Regions from separate parts of the Homo sapiens genome. Here region 1 is linked to region 2. The links come from fine-mapping of genetic effects on gene expression. A gene starts in region 2. The other region holds a variant in brackets. All regions are shown on one strand. Distances are from middle to middle. Region 1 overlaps SCARB1 (scavenger receptor class B member 1). Region 2 holds the start of SCARB1 (scavenger receptor class B member 1).

The links.
Region 1: its variant is fine-mapped to the expression of SCARB1 in testis (GTEx, PIP above 0.99).

The regions. Positions count from the first base shown.
Region 1 is chr12:124,835,275-124,845,641 of GRCh38, reverse strand. The region is part of intron 1 of SCARB1 (scavenger receptor class B member 1); the gene reads left to right. Among named protein-coding and RNA genes, the nearest start is that of SCARB1, 23 kb to the left of the region's middle. RefSeq lists enhancers at 5,283-5,807, 5,808-6,334. The variant A/C (reference allele first, on the strand shown) is at 5,401.
Region 2 is chr12:124,859,507-124,869,873 of GRCh38, reverse strand. It overlaps SCARB1 (scavenger receptor class B member 1), which reads left to right and starts at 6,010. Exons shown (of 13, transcript NM_005505.5): 1 at 6,010-6,279. The coding sequence starts at 6,154. It overlaps LOC105370050 (a long non-coding RNA gene), which reads right to left and starts at 5,812. Exons shown (of 3, transcript XR_945488.3): 1 at 4,270-5,812; 2 at 3,198-3,276. RefSeq lists enhancers at 2,178-3,377, 3,806-3,975, 5,363-5,562, 7,656-8,182 and silencers at 5,793-6,472, 7,703-7,832.

The DNA of each region.
Region 1 (10,367 bases), 24 kb after region 2:
CCTCCGCCTCCTGGGTTCAAGCGATTCTCCTGCCTCAGCCTCCCCAGTAGCTGGGACTACAGGCGCCCGCCACCACGCCCGGCTAATTTTTTTTTTTTTTTTTTGTATTTTTAATATAGACGGGGTTTCACATGTTGGCCAGGCTGGTCTCAAACTCCTGACCTCAGGTCAAACACCTGCCTCGGTCCCAAAGTGTTGGGATTACAGGCCTGAGCCACCGTGCCCGGCCCTGCACATTTCTTATAAATGAAATCATGCAATGTGTGGCCTTAAGTGCCTGGCTGCTTCCGCTTAGCGTCATGTTTTGGGGTTCATCCGTGGTGTGGCATGTGGAGTGCTGCTTTCCTTTTTGTAGCTGAGCAGGCCTCCACGGTGCGGGTGCACTGCATGCTGTTTTTCCGCGCCTCTGTGGATGGGCGTCTGGGCTGGTGGCTGCCGGGAGCGGTGCTGCTGGGAGCGCGCATGTTCGGGAACTCGCTTGGCTTCTGCTTTCAGTGGTCTCCTTTTATGCCCTCCTTCCCCTCACCCCTCTCGCTCTTCAGCCCGCCCTGCCCCTGCGCCCATCCTCTGTGTGGCTGCGTCTGTAAACCTGAGTGTGTCCTTGGACCTTGTGCAGTCCTAGATTCCGGAGCCTGCAGGTGTGGGTCCAGATCCCGGCCCTGCCTCCTGCTGCTGTGTGACCATGGACAGGCTCTTCGAGTCTCTGGTCTCTGGTGGGTGTCTGAGTCTGCATGGGAGGCAGAGGTTGCAGTGAGCCGAGATCGTGCCACTGCACTCCAGTCTGGGCAACAGAGCAGGACTCTGTCTCAAAAAAAAAAAAAAAAGAAAGAAAGAAAGAAAAAAATGTCCATAACAGGTGCATGGGCCAAAGACCATGTATTCCCGTACAGTTCTGGAGGCCGGAAGTCTGAGATCAGGATGTTGGCAGGGCTGGCTTCTCCGGAGACCCCTCTCCCGGCCTCATAGACGCCACCTTCTCCCTGTGTGCGCACATCCCCGGTGACTCTCTGCGGGTCCTAATCTCCTCTTTTAAGGGCGTCAGTCAGATTGGATTAGGGCTCACCCCACTGACCTCATTTAAACGTAATCACCGATTTAAAGGCCCTGCCCCCCGCGCCAATACAGTCACATTCTGATGCACCGAGGGTTAGGGCTGCAACATGGGAATTTTGGGGGGACACTGTTCAGCTCATAATAGTAGGGTGCCTATAAAATGGGCTAAAACCATGCCTTCCTATAGGATTCAGTGAGGACCGAGGGAGCTAGAGGTGGAAGTGCTTTGAGCTGGGGGTGGCACAGGGAGGCCCCCTTCATGTGGCCTGTCACGTCTGAGGAGAGGGCGGCTTTTCCATGCCATGCACGGTAACTCGTGTCAACATTCCTCGTGCTGCCCTGTTTAAAATCTATCCGTGTTCCTATGTGTGTATCAGGCTTATTGCTTCCTTCTGCTGCCTGGACCCCCTAATTCATGTTCATCCTGTTGTATTTATTCCCTTAGCGACGGGGGTACCTTGGTTATGTCTGACTCCTGCCTCCACAAACAGCAAATATGCTGGACCCTGCTGCCTTGTACTTCTCCACAATTTCCTGGGGATGCGCAGGAGTGGAATTGCTGTAGGGCAGAGGGGGAGCCATTTTCACCCAACATGCCTTCCAGAAGGGCCACTGCTGTTCACCCTCCCAGCTCTCACATCCTCTCCAGCACCTGAGACGATTTAGTCTTCGAGAATGTCTGGGGTCTCAGTGAGGGTACGTGGTGCAGCATTGTTCTCATGTGCTTTTCTGAGGTGTGAATTTGAGTCTTCTTCCTTTCATAAGTCCTCAGGTGGGGGTCTGAGGCTCAGAGATTTTGAGGGCCATGTTGGAGGGTCACAGAGCAAACTGGGGCTAGACCCCACCAGCTTGGGCTTGGAGGGCCTCCAGCTTGGATGTAGGGCCCTTCATAAATCCAGGATGATCTCATCTTGGGATCCTTAACTTGGTAACATCTGTAGAGACCCTATTTTTAAATAAGGCCACATTCTGAGGTTCTAGGTGGGCATGAATTTGGCAGGGGACATGCTTCAGACCAGCACTATGTGTGCAGGTGCCCAATCCTCAGATCTGCAGAGCTCTGGGTTCAAATCCAGGTCCCATTACTTGGGTCCTGTGGAAACTCACTTTTTTCCTAAAAGCCGATTTCCACCTCTGCACATGGGGCCAATGTTCTTCCATCTCACAAACCAGAAGTCAAGGCCAGGCGCAGTGGCTCATGCCTGTAATCCCAGCACTTAGCGAGGCAGAGGTGGGAGGATCGCCTGAGGCCAGGAGTTCAAGACCAGCCTGGGTAACATAGTAAGACCCCCCCCCCCATCTCCACAGAAAGTAAGAAACAAAAACAAAACAAACTGGAGGCCAAGGAGAGCAGCTGCGGATGGTCACGTGCCTCTCCCTGGGTGTGCCCAGCTCTTACCCAGAAAGCCCTGGCTGGCATTAAAAATAAGGAAGGTAAAATAGGGATATGATCAAACAAATTAAAAGTGTACGGAAAAAGAGTCAGCCTTCTGGAAAGATCACAGCACGACACTGCTCCCCTGGCCCCAGCTGGTCTTTGCTCCAGAGGTGACTTGGGTTAATAGTTCCTTGTTTTTCCTTCCTGCAATAAACATGTTTGCGTCCACAGAGGGGGACCCACACCCGTATCCTTCCCGTCCGTGGCACACGTCCCACAAGGGCACACGGTTCCCATGCTTTTCTGCCTCTTGGCTGGGGCACCTAGGTGGATCTTGGCATCTCTTGTTCCCGCACAGAACCCATCCTCATCCGAGCCCTGGGCCTCTGTCTCCCAGCAGGCTTTGCAAATAGGACCTTGTAAAGGACAGGGCTGTGTTTCCCAAAGGCCAGAGCAGTGAAGAGGGGCATGTGGGGTCGTGGGGCACACCTCTAGGACATTGGGGTCCAGGGGTCCTTTCCAGTAAGACCTTGCTGTGCTGGAAACACCCCTGTGTCTTTCAGGGCTGTTTTCAGAGTCAGGGTTGATGTGACCGCCACGTTTCCTCTGGGCCTGACAGCTGTAATCTGTGGCTTGGGAGTGCAGATAAGTGTGATGAAGCTGCCAGCAGGCCTGGGCATCTGTGTCCTTGGTGGGGGCAGGGAGAAGAGACAGGGACTGGGATGCTGGGGCCAGGGCCAGAGCCCCGCTGAGATATGAGGTCCCCTTCCACCCTGGGAGGTGTGTGGGGAGGAGCTTCCTCGAACCCCTTTAGCTGGGACGGATGGAAGAATGAGCAGCTTTGCATTTCCGGCAGCGTCTCCAGCTTTCCTGGGGCTTTCTCGGCTTGTGTTATTGATGAACTCCAGTGCGTGAGGCCATTGGAGCCTTAGAGGCCTGTTTCCCCTGGACAGGTGACTGCCTGGGCCAGAGGCAGCACTGGCATGGTGCCCTCTTGCTCCTGGCTGGGAGTGACACGGGGCGTGGGGCGCTTTGCATTCATCCCCAGCTGTTTGGGCACATTTACAACCCTCATTTTACAGATGGGACAAACCCCAGTGGAGAATCTGCTCCGGGCAGCTGTTTATGAACCACCTGAATGGGGCACACAGGACTGTGGGAGGAGGAGGAGGGACCCCCAGGGCTGAAGTGGCAGGGAAAGCTACTCATCCTTTCGGCCCATGTTTACTGCTCACAAATTGTGGGCCAGGTCTCGTGCCAAGTGTTGGAGCTACAGCCGTGGACAAAAGAGACCTGGTCCTGCTCACGGCAGCTACGCTTTAGCAGGAGGGATGGGCCATGGAGAAGCACATGGAAGAGGTGGGGTGGCGAGAAGAGCTAGGAAGGGGACGAGGCAGGTGAGCTGACATGGAGCCACTGCTGGGAAGGGGACTCCTTCTGATGTGGGAGTCAGGAGGGCCTCTCAGAGGAGGGGCTCTATGAGCTGGGGAGCAGCTGGCAAAGAGCACAGCAGGTTCAAAGGCCGGAGGTGCGAAGGAGCCTGCTGTGTTGGAGGAAGAGGGAGCAGGCCAGTGGGGTTGGGAGAAGTGACTGGAGGGGGTGAAAGGGGACAGGCATGTGGGGGCCTTGCAGGACACCTGGAGGAGTTCAGATTTGGTTTTCAATTCCATGGAGGGTTCTGAGCAGGGAAGAGCCATGATCTGACTCAGTATTTTTTTTTTTTTTTTTTGAGACAGAGTCTTTCTCTGTCGCCCAGGCTGGAGTGCAGTGGCATGGTATCAGCTCACTGCAACCTCCGCCTCCCGAGTTCAAGCAATTCTCTTTTTTTTTTTTTTTTGAGACGGAGTCTTGCTCTGTTGCCCAGGCGGGGGAGTGCAGTGGCGCAATCTCCGCTCACTGCAAGCTCCGCCTCCCTGGTTCATGCCATTCTCCTGCCTCAGCCTCCCGCGTAGCTGGGACTACAGGCGCCCGCCACCACGCCCGGCTAATTTTTTTGTATTTTTAGTAGATACGGGGTTTCACCGTGTTAGCCAGCATGGTCTCAATCTCCTGACCTCGTGATCCGCCCACCTCGGCCTCCCAAAGTGCTGGGATTACAGGCGTGAGCCACCGCGCCCAGCCTCAAGCAATTTTCTTGCCTCAGCCTTCTGAGTAGCTGGGATTACACGTGCGTGCCACTACACTCGGCTAATTTTTGTATTTTTCGTAAAGATGGTGTTTCACCATGTTGGGCAGGCTGGTCTTGAACCCCTGACCTCAGGTGATCCACCTGCCTTGGCCTCCCAAAGGGCTGGGATTACAGGTGTGAGCCACCACGCCCAGCCTGACTCAGTCTTGAAGAGCTCTCTGGCTGCTGTCTGGAGAAGGGAGTGTCGGGGGCCAGGCTGGAAGCGGGGAGGCAGAGAAGATGGTGATTTGAGCCAGGTGGGGGTAGTTTTCTAAATGGAAAGAAGGGAACATATTCGAGTTTTTTTTCAGGGAGAGTCAACAAGATAGGTCAGTGGACTGGGGTGCGAGGGAAGGAGAGGAATCAAGGGTGGTTCCTCAAGGTTTGAGGAGTTTGGTAGATGGTGGAGCCATTTTCCGAGACGAGAAGATCGGGGGAGGGAGGTTGAGAGCAGATGGAGTGTGGGCCTTAACTCTGGTCCTAAAATCAAGCGAGGACAACTCAACAACAAGAGTCAGACAACCCCATTAAAACACGGACCAAGCACCTGCAAAGAAGACATGCAGGCAGCCAGGCGCGGTGGCTCACGCCTGTAATCCCAGCACTTTGGGAGGCCAAGGTGGGCGGATCACAAGGTCAGGAGTTCGAGGCCAGCCTGGCCAAGATGGCGAAACCCCGTCTCTACTAAAAATACAAAAATTAGCCGGGTGTGGTGGCAGGCGCCTGTATGTAATCCCAGCTACTCAGGAGGCTGAGGCAGGAGAATCGTTTGAACCTGGGAGGTAGAGGTTGCAGTGAGCCA[A/C]GACTGTACTCCAGCCTGGGCAACAGAGCAAGACTCTGTCTTAAAAAAAAAAAAAATGCAGATAGCCAACGGGGACATGGAAGTGTGCTCAGCGACACTCGCTCATCGTTAGGGAAATGAGAATCAGTGAGACACACTCATACCCATTAGGATGGTCACTTGAGAAAACAGAAAATCTCAAATATTGGTGAGGATGCGGAGAAATCGGGGCCCATGTGTGCCGTTGGGGTGAGGGTGCGGAGAAATCGGGGCCCATGTGTGCCGTTGGGGTGAGGGTGCGGAGAAATCGGGGCCCATGTGTGCCGTTGGGGTGAGGGTGCGGAGAAATCGGGGCCCATGTGTGCCGTTGGGGTGAGGGTGCGGAGAAATCGGGGCCCATGTGTGCCGTTGGGGTGAGGGTGCGGAGAAATCGGGGCCCATGTGTGCCGTTGGGGTGAGGGTGCGGAGAAATCGGGGCCCATGTGTGCCGTTGGGGTGAGGGTGCGGAGAAATCGGGGCCCATGTGTGCCGTTGGGGTGAGGGTGCGGAGAAATCGGGGCCCATGTGTGCCGTTGGGGTGAGGGTGCGGAGAAATCGGGGCCCATGTGTGCCGTTGGGAATGTAGGATGGTGCAGCTGCTGTGTGGAGGCCCCCCCAAAATTTAACATAGAATTACCATATGGTGGGGCAACCCCACTTCTGGGTATCAAAGAAATGGAAGTGGGAACTTGAAGAGGAATCTGGCCACCGCGTTCATTGCAGCGCTGTTCACGATGGCCCAACGGTGGGAGCAACCCGAGTGTCCGCTGATGGGTGGTGGGTAAGAAGCTGGGGCCCATCCACACGTTGGAATAGGATTCAGCCTGGAAAAGGAAGGACGTTTGGACGCACGCTGCGACATGCACGGGCCTTGAGGAAGTTATGCGAGTGAAATAAGCCACAACAGGACAAATACCGTACGATTCCATTTGCATGAGCTCCCTAGAGTAGCCAGATCCACAGAGACAGAAAAGAGAATGGTGGGTGCCAGGGGCTGGGGGAGAGGGGGTGCAGAGCTCTTTTTCAGTGGGTACAGGGTTTCACTTTTGCAAGATGAAAGAGTTCTTTAGATGGATGTTGCTGATAATTGCACAACATTGCAAATGTCCTTAATGCCACTGAACTGTACACTTAAAAATGGCTAAGTTGGGCTGGGCGTGTAGTGGCTCATGCCTGTAATCCCAGTACTTTTGGAGCCCAAGGTGGGTGGATCACGAGGTCAGGAGTTCAAGACCAGCCTGGCCAAGATGGTGAAACCCCGTCTCTACTAAAAATACAAAAATTAGCCTGGCATGGTGGCAGGCGCCTGTAATCCCAGCTACTTAGGAGGCTGAGGCAGAGAATTTCTTGAACCTGGGAGGCAGAGGTTGCAGTGAGCTGAGATCACACCACTGCACTCCAGCCTGGGTGACAGACCGAGACTCCATCTCAAAAAAAAAAAAAAAAAAGGCTAAGTTGGTAAATTTTATGTTTACCCCAATTAAAATTAAAAACTGTGGCAGGGTTTAACCTGAAGGGAGAAATGGTACCGGCCCCTCCTGCTTGAATGGGTTGGGCTGTTGGTTTGTAGATGGTAGACCAGACGGCCCAGCCTGTTGGCCAGGGTCAAATTCCAACATGCTGAGCCTGTTGCAGAAGACTTAGCCTTTGAAGCAGGCAGCCCTGAGCTTCTGATTCCTCCAGGCCCAAACCACCGTTGCCCTATTTTACAAGACCTTGGCTGGCTTCATGACGTGTTCTTGAACTGGAGCCAGTGGTGAGCTCAGGGAGGCTCCTGTAACAATAGTTCCCTGAGGCATGTTTATAGCCGGGTGCCCTCTTCACAACAGACACATGTCCTGGGTCATCTCATTCTCTCTGCACTGCCACGGGGAGGATGGGGAGGCAGTCACGTCTCCATGTGGCATATCAGGGGACCGGGGTGGGAGGGGCTGACTGAGCCGAGGCCAGAACTAGGTCTGCGCCCTGGCCCTCTCCCTAATGGCCAGATCCGGCCTCACCCGTGAAGCTGGCCTGGCAGGGGATGGCCCTTCCTGAATTTCTGTGTGGTCTAGGCTGGGGTTGGCATGCTTTTCTGTACAGAGACAGATAGTCAATATGCTCAGCTCTGCAGGCTGCACGGGTTGTGTCTCAGCTACTCAGCCCTGCTGCTGTGATGCTGAGGCTGCCATTGACGACACAGAAATAAGTCGAGGTGGCCGCTGTGGGCCAGTGCCACTGCATTTATGAACACCAAAATGTGAATTTCATATAACTTTCACATGTCATGAAATGGCATTTTTCTTTCAATTGTTTGTTTATTTATTTTTAACATATTTTTTGGAGACAGGGTCTCACTGTGTCACCCAGGCTGGGGGGCAGGGGCACCATCATGGCTCACTGCAGCCTAGACCTCCTGGGCTCGTTATCCTCCCACCTTACTCTCCTGAGTAGCTGGGACAACAGGCATGTGCCACCACGCCTGGCTCATTTTTTTTTTTTATAGGTTGGTGGGTGGGTGTGTAGGGGGGGTCCTCACTATGTTGCCCAGGCTCGTCTTGAACTCCTGGCCTCAAGTGACCCTCCCACCTTGGTCTCCCAAAGTGTTGGGATTACAGGCGTGCAGCACTGCACCCAGCTGGCTGACTTTTCTTTTCTTTTCTTTTCTTTTCTTTTCTTTTCTTTTCTTTTCTTTTCTTTTCTTTTCTTTCTTTTTCTTTCCTTTCTTTTCTTTTTTCTCCCTTCCTTCCTTCCTTCCTTCCTTCCTTCCTTTCTTTCTTTCTTTCCTTCTTTCTTTCTTTTCTTTCTTCCCTTTCTTCCCCTCTTTCCCTTCTTTCCATTTGAAAATGCAAAATGATTGTTAGCTTGTGGGGTGAGTAGAAATAGGCATCAGGCTGGATTTGGTCCACAGGCTGTAGCTTGTTGAAACCTTTCTAAGAACAGAGAAGAATAATGTTTTTGCTTGAAAACAGCCAGCTTTATTGAGGTTGGGGTGTTTGAAAGAAGGCATATTCACTGTCTGACTTGTGTGGAAACAGTGGGGCTGGGATCAGCCCTGGTAGAAATTGTTTTTGTCCAAAAAAGCAAGTAGAGGTGGGCTGCCTGGAGTTCCCGTCATGCAGGTGCAACTGGGGAGCAGGATGAGGCCCTGATTTGGCGGGGAAGGAGAGGTTGTGCTTGATTCATCTCTGTGCCCGGGGACCAGGACTGTATGCACCTTCCAGCATTCTCTTCGCTGGTCTGAGCTCCTTACTTGCCACGCCTGTGCTGGGCCTTTACCAAGGCAGTGCCCAGCCTTTGGTCAGACCCAAGGTCAAGACTCTGTGCCAACATTGGGTTTGTGCTCTTGGGCAAGCGAGTGGTTTAATCTCCCTGTACTTCACTTTCTTCATCAGTAAAATGGAGACAAATTATTAGCTTTATTCTATTTTATTTTATTTCATTTTATTTTGAGACAGGGTCTTGCTCTGTCACCCAGGCTGGAGTACAGTGGCACGATCATGGCTCACTGCAGCCTCTATCTCCTGGGCTCAAGGGATCCTCCTGCCTCAGCCTTCCACGTACCTGGGTCTACAGGCATACACTACCACATTTGGCAAATTTTTAAACATTTTTTGTAGAGATGGGGCTCACTGTGTTGCGCAGGCTGGTCTCGAACTCCTGGGCTCCAGTGATCCTCCTGCCCCAGCCTCCCAAAGTGCTGGGATTACAGGTGTGAGCCACCACACCCAGCCTAATTGTTAGGTTTAAATAAATGAAAGCATTGCTTTAAATGGGATGCTTTGAGCTGGAAACAACATAAAACTTGCCTCCAGTGGCTTCTGTAATGCAGATGTTTACTGTTGTGCTTCCTGAGAGATGGGAGGTGGTGGTTTCCAGATGCGTTCAGCAGTTCAGAACATCGTGCTCTGCCTCAGTAGATTTTGCCCAGTGGCTCTCCGAGGTGGCTGTACTGATGGACATTCTGGCCAGTGACACATGCGCGAGACCTCTGGTGCTTGCCAGTGCGTGCCAGTGAATACGTGTGATGTCCCTGAGCTCTTCCTACTGGGTACCTGAGTCACTTGTGAATTGCGTGTCCTCTTCCCCACTTCCTGCTCAGTCCACGAGGGCAGGAATCCTGTTGGATTAACTTTACCCCTGTAGCACTGATCGCCCGCTTTGGATGCTCAGGCAGGGTTGAAATGAATGAATGACTGAGTGAATGAATGAATGAATGAATGCCACGTTCTCATCGTGTGTTACTATAGGACAGGGATTGCAAACTGTGCAGGAACATACATGGGGGAAGGGCCCTGGCATGAGGTGATAGGGAGTGGTGGGGCCCGTTGCAAGCTGGAGGGCACACCCCAACTGTGAAGCGGCTCCTGCTTTGCTCCAGCGGGCTGGGCCACGTGGCATGCAGGCCCAGAGCTGGACATCACCCAGGTTCCCAAAAGAAGCCAGAAGGCAGGAATTTACCTGCTGGTTTAAGATACTGTCAACAGATTCAAATATTTTGAAATATGTGATTCAAAACCCATCTACTGGCAAAATCTGGCCCATGGGCCCAGTTTGTGGCATCTGTTTCAGGAAGAGACAAGACCTAGTTTGTGTTTTTTTTAGTGGGGGCGGGGAGGATGCGGTGTATAAGAAATTTTGAGTGAATTAAAAAAAATTTATGAAAAATTTCAAGGGCTGGGTGCAGTGTCTCACGTTCGTAATCCAGCTCTTTGGGAGGTTGAAGCGGGAGAATTGGTTTAGGCCAGGAGTTTCAGACCAGCCTGGGCAACATAGCGAGACCCCTACAAAAAATAAAATCTACAAAAAATGAAAAAATTAGCTGAGTATGGTGACAGAAGCTGCTGTGGTCCCAGCTACAAGGAGGCTGAGGCAGGAAGATGGTTTGAGCCCAGGAGTTCAAGGCTACAGTGAGCTCGGACTGCACCAGTGCACTCCAGCCAGGGTGACAGAGCAAGACCCTGTCTCTT
Region 2 (10,367 bases):
CTCTAGCCTGGGCGACAGAGTAAGACTTCTTCTTAAAAAAAAAAAAAAAAATTAGCCAGTCGTGTGGCATGCACCTGTAATCCCAGCTGCTCAGGAGGCTGAGACAGGGAGAACTGCTTAAATCCGGGAGGCGGAGGTTGCAGTGAGCTGAGATCACACCACTGTATTCCAGCCTGGGCCACAGAGCGAGTCTCCACCTCAAAAGAAAAAAAAATAAGGTTTCCTCTTCCTTTGCTTTTTATTTTGTCCTTTCTCTCACCCGTCTCTTTGCTTTCCTTCACTTTCTTCCTCTTTTTCCTTTCCCTCAGCAAACAGCGTAGTGGTCATGTGTGTGGCAAGTCACTGGTTCACATCTCTGCTCTCTGCTCGCCAGGAGCCAGCTGTGCCTCCTTTAAGGAAGCCCTTCAGCTTCCATTCACTGTGTTCTATTGCCGCTGGGGATGAGCGTGATTCTTCCCAGGCTGGGGTGGGAATGCGGCTGCCTGCAGGAGGTGTTGGCTCCGCCTCACACAGGCACCTTGCTAAGCATATGACCAAGATGAGCCCATGTAATCCTCATGACCACCCCAGGGTGCAGGCATGACTCAGACCAATCCCAAGGCACCGATAAGGGAGCCGAGGCACAGAGAGGCTGAGCAACTTGCCCCAGGCCGCCATGCCAGGCAGCTGCGTGTTCCGGCGGCAGAGGCAAGCTTTTACCTTGGACTCTGGTAGATGTGGTTCATCCACACACACCGACCAAGGGCCTACTGTGGGCCACGTGCTGTTGGGGAGCCGGGGGCACAGCAATGGACGAAACAGGCAGATTCCTGCCCCGTGGAGCTTTTTTTATCCTAGAAGAGGAAGGAAGCCAATCAAACAAGCAAACACCCGCCCTGGAGGGCGGTCGGTGCACAGAGAGAAATGAAGCAGCCAAGGGGGATAGGGAGGGTCCTATGGGTGGTTTGTAACTTTCAAAGGGTGGGCAGGAAGGAAGTCATTGCTGAGAAGATGGCATTGGAGCAAGGACCTGAAGGAAGGGAGGGTGAGTCTCCTGGGTGTTAGGGAGAGGAGCATTCCAGGAGGGGACCAGGGAGTGCAAAGGTTCTGGGGCACGAGCCGGGCAACAGGTGGAGGAGCTCCAGGGAGGAGGATGTGGCTGGAGCAGAGTGGGCAAGGAGAGGGAGGGGGATGAGGTCAGGGAGATGTGCCCATCTGGGTGCGTTTTGACTTTGTCTCTCTAGTATGAGATGTGGTGATCTTGTGGGCCATGGTGAGGGCTTTGGCTTTTATGCTGAATGAGGTGGGAGCCACGGAAAGGTTTCTTTCTTTTTGTTTTCTTGAGAGACAGGGTCTCACTGTGTTGCCCAGGCTGGAGTGCAGTGACACAATCACAGCTCACTCACTGCAGCCTCGACTTCCTGGGCTCACGTGATTCTCCCACCTCAGCCTCCTCAGTAGCTGAAACTAGAGGTGTGTGCCACTTTACCTGGCTAACTTTTTATTTTTTGTAGAGATGGTGTCTGGCTGTGTTGCCCAGGCTGATCTCGAACTCCTGGCCTCAAGGGATCCTCCTGCCTCAGCCTCCAAAAGCACTGGGATTATAGGCATGGGCCACCATGCCTGGCCATTTCTTTAAAATAACAGTTTTCATTGAGATATAATTTGCATATCATACATTCACCCATTTAAAGTATATAATTTGGCCAGGCATGATGGCTCACACTTGTAATCCCAGCGCTTTGGGAGGCCAGGGTGGGAGGATGACCAGAATTTTGAGAGCAGCCTGGGCAACAAAGTGAGACCCTGTCTCAACAAAAATGAAAACATCAGGTGTACATAGTGGCATATACTTGTTGTCCAAGCTAGTCAGGAGGCCGAGGCGGGAGGATGGTTTGAACCCAAGACTTCAAGACTGCACTCCAGCCTGGGTGACAGAGTGAGACCCTGTCTCTTGAAAAAAAGAAAAAGTAAATAAAGTGTGTAATTTGATGGTTTTTTGTATATTCACGGAGTTGTGCAACCATCATTACCATCACTTTTACCGTCACTTTTAGAACATTTTCACCACTCCAAGATGAAACCCCAAACCTGTAGCAGTCACTCCTCATTCTCCCCAGCCCCTGGCAACCACTGGTCTACTTTTTGTCCCCATAGATGTGCCTACTATGGACATTTTATATAAGCAGAATCATACATGTGGCCTTTGTGTCTGGCTTCTTTCACTTATCAATGTTTTCAAGGTTCATCCATGGTGTAGCACGCGTCAGCCCTTCATTCCTTTTTATGCTGAGTCATATTCCAGTGCGTGGTTATGCCACATTTTATTTACCTATTCACCAGCTGATGGGGGTGTGGGTTATTTTCACTGCTTGGCTGCTGTGAACATTTGTGTCCAGGCTTCCGTGTGGACATGCTCTTTCCTTTCTCCTGGGCATATACCCAGGAGTGGAACTGCTGGGTCTTAGGGGACCCCTATGTTTACCTTTTGAGGCTGCACCATTTTACAATCCCACAAGCACCTCAAGAGGCTTCCAACTCCTCCAGGTCTTTGCCTGCAGTCATTCTCCGTCTTTGATCACGAAAGGACTCTGAGCAGAGGAGGAAAAGCATCTGACTTGATTTTCCAGGAGCCCTGTGACACCATGTTGATCATATTTTGTTATCAGCACTCTTTCTTTTCTTCTGTATCTTCGACTTTCCCCAGGGCAAGACCTCTCTCTCAAACATGACGAAGTCTTTTTTTCCCTTCTTAAGCTGCCCTCCCTGCCACCGGAAGTGACTCCCCTCAGCAAGGCCAAGGTGGCTCACGTGTCCCATCACCCTTTCATCTCTGCCCTTCTCTCTCGAGTGACAGCATGGCGTGACATGAGGGCTCTCCAGCCATGGCCTTGCAGCCCTCTTGGGTAAGCATCACGTACATTTGGACCTTGAAGACTTGGTCATGAATCAGAGTTAGATTGGGTGAGATGGTCAAGGCAGGTCAGTATCAAGGAAGTGGAGGAGGGTGTCAGGGCCAGGCAGACCGCAGATTTTAGTTAACTGGCTAATTTCCGAGAACTACAAAAGTCATTAAAAAAAAAGGCAACTGCATAGCTGAAGGCTGTTGAAGGCCTTAAGGAATTCAATGAAGTGATATTAATTAATTAATCAATCGATCAGTTACTTGATTAATTAATGAGTTAATTAGCTGATTGAGTAAAGTATTTATTGAGTACCTGCTATGTGCCAGGCATTTTTCCAGGTGCTGGAGATACATCGATAAGCAAAACAGGGTCAGCTTCTGTCTCTCGGGAGCTGGAGGAGATGAACAAGGAAACAGATAAGACCATTTCACACAAAGCAAGGTGGCCTGACAGAGTGGGCTGGGACTCCTGTTTTCAACAGATGCAACAGCAAAGGCTTCTCTGAGGAGTGGGTTTCAGCTGAGCCCAGAAGAGGAGAGTGGGGAGCCATGGAAGGATCTAGGGGAAGCGTATCCTAGACAGAGGAACAGGAAGTGCAAAGTTCCTGACACAAGAAAAAGCTGGGGATGCTCAATGAACTGAAACAATGGGGGAGAGGGCAGGAGATGGAGGCAGAGAGATGGGCAGGCGCCAGTTCATGTGGGTCCGGAAAATAACGACGACACTCCCCAGCTCAGTTGCACTGACACATTCCAGGGACTGTTCTAAGCACTGGCACATTTTTTGACTTGTTTAATCCTCATGGTAGCCCTTGGAAAGGGGCTCTTCTAATCCCCGTTTCGTAGATGAGGAGACTGAGGCACAGAAAGGCCCAAACCACTTGCCCCAGGACTCCAATGTGGGAAACCCCAGAGCCTGGATTTCTCTGAACCTGTCCCCCGGGGCTACCACAGTCTCACCTCAGCCACTCTGACCTCCCTCAGGAGTTGGGCCCTGCCCCTTGGGGCACTGGACCATATTCGGCCTCCTTAGAGGAAGGCAGTGCCAGGCAAAGCTGTCTAACGAGAACATAGCAGGTGCTCTGTAAATATTGGTTCAGGCGAAGACATGTTGCTTAAGGATGGCCCTGCGAGAAGGCTGCTTTCTTCTGGAGTTAAATAAGAGGTTTAGAAAGCCTCCCTCGGAGCACTCAAGGACTGAGCCTGCCTTACCCACGTGCTGGGGACACCACCCTCCTGTCCCTGTGTAACCCAGGAGTCTCTTCTCAGTAACTTCATTCAGAAAATGAGGGGACTGGCCAGCACTTCAGGGACCAGAAGGCAGGCCAGGTGGGGTGTGGTGGAGGACTTCAGGGGGGCGTGGAGGGCTTCAGGGATACACTCACCCATCTAAGGGCAACTGCCACTTAGTGCCAGCCCACTTCTCTCCCTTTTTTCTTTTTTCTTTTTCCCCCAGGGTCTTGCTGTCACCCAGGCTGGAGTGCGGTGGTAAGATCAGGGCTCACTGCAGCCTTGAACTCTGGGACTCAAGGGATCCTTCTGCCTCAGCCTCCTGAGTAGCTGGGGCGACAAGCGCATGCCACTGTGGCTGGTTAATCTTTTCATTTTCTGTAGAGACTGGTCTCACTATGTTGCCCAGGCTGGTCTCCAACTAGTGGCCTCAAGTGATCCCTCACCTGGACCTTCCAAAGTGCTGGGATTACAGTTGTGGGCCACCATGCACCGGGCCTGTTCTGTTTTCTTGGAGCACTTGCCTGCAATTATCCTTCATTCATTTGCTCACGTGCTCATCATTGGTTTCCCTCTTCATTAGAAAGTGGGGACTTGGTTTGGGTTAACTAAGCTTCCCTGTGCATCAGTTTTCATTTCTTTCTTTCTTTTTCTTTTTCTTTTCTTTTTTTTTTTTTTTGAGATGGAGTTTCGCTCTTGTTGCCCAGGCTGGAGTGCAATGGCGCTATCTCGGCTCGCCACAACCTCCGCCTCCCGGGTTCAAGCGATTCTCCTGCCTCAGCCTCCCGAGTAGCTGAGATTACAGGCATGCGCCACTACGCCTGGCTAATTTTGTATTGTTAGTAGAGACGGGGTTTCGCCATGTTGGTCAGGCTGGTCTCCAACTCCCGACCTCAGGTGATCCATGAAGTCCACCCGCCTCGGCCTCCCAAAGTGCTGGGATTACAGGCGTGAGCCACCTCCCAGTTTTCTTATTGTAAAATGGAGCCATTGTGTGCAAAGCACTCAGGACAGGGGCCAGCACCTAGAAGGCTCCTCAGTCATTCATTCTAGAATATTTACTGTGAGCAGGCATTCCCTGCCAGGCCACGTTCTAGAGCTCAGGACGCGTGGGGGGGGGGGCCCGCCTCACGGGTTGGCATCCCAGTTGGAGCACATGGTCAGAATGCAAGGACGCAAATGAACGTGAACCTGCCAGGGGGTGCTCAGTCATAGGGTGATGGTGGCACCAGCGTTACGAAGGATAGGGCCAGGCGGATACCTGGGAGAACAGAATTGCCTGTGCAGGGTGTATGGAGGCCCTGGGGCTGGAGCCTGCGGGGCTTCTTCCAGGGACAGTGAGGCTGGAGATGGACTGCGGAGATGAGGGTCTAGAAGGTGGTGGCGGGGCATGTGGACCGTTGTAAGGGCTCTGGGGTTCCTGGGTGGGCTGGCGAAGTCCTACTCACAGTGACCAACCATGATGATGGTCCCGATAGAGGAGGAGAGGGAGGAGGAGGGAAAAGGAAGGGTGAGGGGCTCAGAGGGGAGAGCTGGGAGGAGGGGAGACATAGGTGGGGGAAGGGGTAGGAGAAAGGGGAAGGGAGCAAGAGGGTGAGGGGCACCAGGCCCCATAGACGTTTTGGCTCAGCGGCCACGAGGCCTCCTCAGCTCCCGCCCCAAAACGGAAGCGAGGCCGTGGGGGCAGCGGCAGCATGGCGGGGCTTGTCTTGGCGGCCATGGCCCCGCCCCCTGCCCGTCCGATCAGCGCCCCGCCCCGTCCCCGCCCCGACCCCGCCCCGGGCCCGCTCAGGCCCCGCCCCTGCCGCCGGAATCCTGAAGCCCAAGGCTGCCCGGGGGCGGTCCGGCGGCGCCGGCGATGGGGCATAAAACCACTGGCCACCTGCCGGGCTGCTCCTGCGTGCGCTGCCGTCCCGGATCCACCGTGCCTCTGCGGCCTGCGTGCCCGGAGTCCCCGCCTGTGTCGTCTCTGTCGCCGTCCCCGTCTCCTGCCAGGCGCGGAGCCCTGCGAGCCGCGGGTGGGCCCCAGGCGCGCAGACATGGGCTGCTCCGCCAAAGCGCGCTGGGCTGCCGGGGCGCTGGGCGTCGCGGGGCTACTGTGCGCTGTGCTGGGCGCTGTCATGATCGTGATGGTGCCGTCGCTCATCAAGCAGCAGGTCCTTAAGGTGGGTGAGGGAGACCCCAGGGGGTCCGCGCACGGACCCGGGCTGTTGGGCGCTGGGCGCCGGGAGGACCCGCGCGTTGCGGTGGGTGGGCGACCGCAGCGGAATCGGCGCCCGGGCCTGGCGCCGCAGAGCACGAGGGAGGCCAGGCGCTTCGGGAGGGGCTGCTGCCCGCCTCCCCACCACCCTCACCGCCCCAGACTGAGGCTAGGGGGGAACCCAGGGGCTTTGCTGGAGGCGCAGGCCAGGGTTGGGGAGGCCTGGACGGGAGACCACCCGGGCGCCTGACCCGCCCTAAAGGGTCTGGGCGCCCACGACGGATCAGGAGTGTGGACAGGTTGCTTCCGTGGTGCCGCCCGAAGGAGCCCAAGAGTGTGTGAACGTCTGCTTTCACAGCAGCCGGTAGCAGGGTCCGGTAAAATTAGAGCTGCACTTTGCTTGTATCCTGTGAGCCCAGGAGGACAGGAACCTTCTGTGAGACCCACGTGGGTGCCCAGCTCACATGGTAGGTGCTCAGCTGAGCATCCTCCACTGCCCAGAATCTCCCCATAGGAACCCTCTCCCAGAGGCAGAATGCGCGACTCTGTTCTCCCTGCTCACTGCCTCCATGATTCAGTCTGGAAACTATAAGCCGCTTTTCTCCCCAGATTCATGCAGAGGCAGGCAGCAGCCCAAGGTCCTCTGAGTGCACGCAGCCTTAGGTCTTTCCTCTGATCCTAACTTTGCATACCATTGCCCTTTCAACCAGGGAGACAGATTAGGCGGTCAGCTGGTCTGCAGACGGACAGACTCTGCCCTGGGTGCCTGGGTGGCCTGTTTGAATGAGCCTGGAGTTAGGGAAGGGCTGGGAGATTGCAGAGTATCACATTTGAACTAAAAGCCATTTAGAGTTTTGAAGCCCTGGGAACCCACACATGCAGTGGCGGGGAGGGGAAACTGGGGCTCACTCTTATCAAAGTTCTAGCCAGATGCAGAGCTGGGGTGAAGATGTGGACATTGTCACTCTAATGGACGTCTTTTCCCCTTGGCCTGCCTCTTTGGACTGGGTTTCTTAAGAATGGTTCCTTGTCCACATTTCATGTCTGTTCCCTCATTCACAGAGCGAATGAATGAGTGAATGAATGAAGGATCTGCTTAGATCTGGCTGCCACACTTCTTGGGACCCAGCTAGCTGGCCTTAAAGATGGAGCAACATATGGTCTCTCTCAAGGTCTCTGGGTGAGCAGTTGTCTAGGGCATCTTAGCCACGTTGTGTCTATTTTTGATTTTTCAAATCTTGTCCCGCCAAAGCCTGTAATCTGACTGCAAAGAGGTCCCGGTGGATGGTGACACTGTCTCTGGGGATGGCAGGAAAATCAGCAGAATGGCCTCTTCTCCCCCATGACAGCTCAGAGGCTTTCTCTGTTACACTGAGGGAGCTTTATTTTTCTGTGGCCTACTCATACTGAAACGTGTGTGTCAGTGACAGCCTTGTGGCTGCTGCAGTGCCAGGACCCCACTGTGTGTATGCAGGGTCCCTAGAGGGGCTATCACTCAGGCAGTTCAAGCATGTGACCCTGTGCTGTGAGTGAGCACCTGGTCTCTTGCTATGGGAGTGTGGGGACTTATGCCAGGTAAAGAGTCTTGCCAACTCAGTTATTCGGGGGCTTATTTCAAGGTGTTTTCTTTCTCAGGATGTCATCAGGTTAAGTATGTCAGTAGGATGTGTGTGTGTGTGTGTGCACCACACATGCATGCACCACCAAATTTCCCCACTCCTCTCCTGGGCTTCTAAAGAGGAAAACCACATTGTCCTCAATTGTCCTGGAGCTAGGAGCATCTGGCTTAAAGTTGAACAGGAGCCTCCCAGCATCCTTCTGTGGATATCCCAAAGGCGATTGGTTTGGGGCCGAGTGGTGTGAAGGCAGGAAGACACGCCCAGCCCAAGACGGCCACTTCTGGAACCGCCCAGGCTGGAGCAGCGGCCAAGTGCCTTAGCATGGAAGAAGAGAGCCTGTGTTCAGGGGACCAGGCGGGTGAGACACACGCATAAGCAGGGACTGCCCGCTGGTGTTTTCTTTGGCTACATGAGTCTGTGTGCAACTTGAATGGGAGGCCTTGTGCTTTTATTTTTTTTTTTTAATGTGCTTTTTGGTTAACAACAGAAGTCCCTACAGTTGGCCCTCTGTGTCTGCAGGTTCTGCATCCGTGGATTCAATCAACTGCAGATGAAAAGTTTTCAGAAAAAATCCCCCCAAAATAACAATACAACTAAAAAAAGACATAAAAACAATACTGTATAACAACTATTGACATAGCATTTACATCGTATTAGGTATTATAAGTAACCTAGAGATGATTTAAAGAATACGGGAGGATGCGCATAGGTGATATGCAAATACCACAGCATTTTATGTCGGGGACTTGAGCATCTGCAGATCTTGGTATCTATGGGGGTCCTGAAACCAATTCCCCTCTGACATTGAGGGACGACTTTATATAAAATATATGAATACTTGCTCGTAAAAAAAAGTTCAAATGGAGGAAAAGAGAGAAAGTTTCCCCCATTTTATTCCCCTCCTGAGCTATTATCACCATCATTGATGTGGATCTTTCTAGACCCTTTTCTGTGTACCAGGAGCCTGTATGTATACATATTAATATATATTTTACATAACTTGAACTAAGTGTAGGTGAACTTGAACATGTATAATTATCTTGCAATTTGTTTTTCAATTCAAAGATACCAGCTGAAAAATTTTCCATGTCTCAGCAATAAGTCTACCCCGCGTTTTCCTTCATCACTGCTGGTATTCCTTTGAATGGTTATAGACTTGTTTACCTGTTTCTCCATTGACTGATCATTTTCTCTGTCACAAATGACAGCGATATCCCGACACATCCCTCTTCGTGTGGTTCATGAACATTTCCATAGGGTGGATTTCTAGAAGTGGGGCCTTGGGAGCAGGTGTGCTCAGTTTGAGTTTTGATGATTACGGCCAAATTGCCCTTCTGCACAGCTCTGTTGCTGCATCCACCCACAAGGTATGGGACTGTGCTACTTCCCCTATCTCTGCCATCACTGGTAATTACTGATTTATCATTACCATTTTTTGGTAGCCAAGTTCCCGTGTGTCTCTGGTCCTCCAAGGAAGGCCCAGCTGGTGGACATGGGGGAGAGGCCCCTCACTGCAGCTGGGCTGCAAAAAAGGGATGCTCATCTTCCGAGGCTGCTGTCTTCAATGATGAGCTGGGGTGAAGATGTGGATATTGTCACACTAGTTGACATCTTTTTCCCTTTGGCCTGCTTCTTTAGACTGAATTTCTTAAGAATGGCTTCTTGTCCACATTTCATGTCTATGTCCTTTTCACAGAACTTGGATGTGTGCCCCCAGGGATCTGAACCATGTCTTCATTATTCACCGGATCACCTGAGGTCAGGAGTTTGAGACCAGCCTGGCCAACATGGCTAAACCCTGTCTCTACTAAAAAATACAAAAACTAGCTGGACATGGTGGTGCACGCCTGTAATCCCAGCTATTCGGGACGCTGAAGCAGGAGAATAGCTTGAACCTGGAAGGCTGAGGTTGCAGTGAACTGAGATCACGCCACTGCCCTCCAGCCTGCGTAATAGAGTGAGACTCCATCTCAAAAAAAAAAAAAAAAAAATGAAGGAACTTAGAAATATGTCTCAGCATGGGTAGGCCATAAAAACACATTACTAATTGAAAAAAGCTCTGGTGCTATTTATGTTTAAAAAAAACCCACCAAACAATATTCTATATTTTCTTTCCATTTTTATTTTTATTTTCGTAGAGACAAGGTCTCACTATGTTACCCAGGCTGGTCTCGAACTCCTGGCCTTAAGTGATCCTTCTGCCTTGGCCTTCCAAAACACTGGGATGATAGGTGTGAACCACCGCGCCCTGCCATTATTTTCAATGGCTTAATATTAGAATATGTTAAAGTTTGGGAAAAGGTGAGACTAACAGAAGTGGCTACTCTAATGAGAGAAGGCAGGACACTGGGGGTGTGGCCAAAGGAAACCTAATACTTTATCTGTAATGCTATTTTTTTTTTTCTTTTTTGAGATGGAGTCTCGCTCTGTCGCC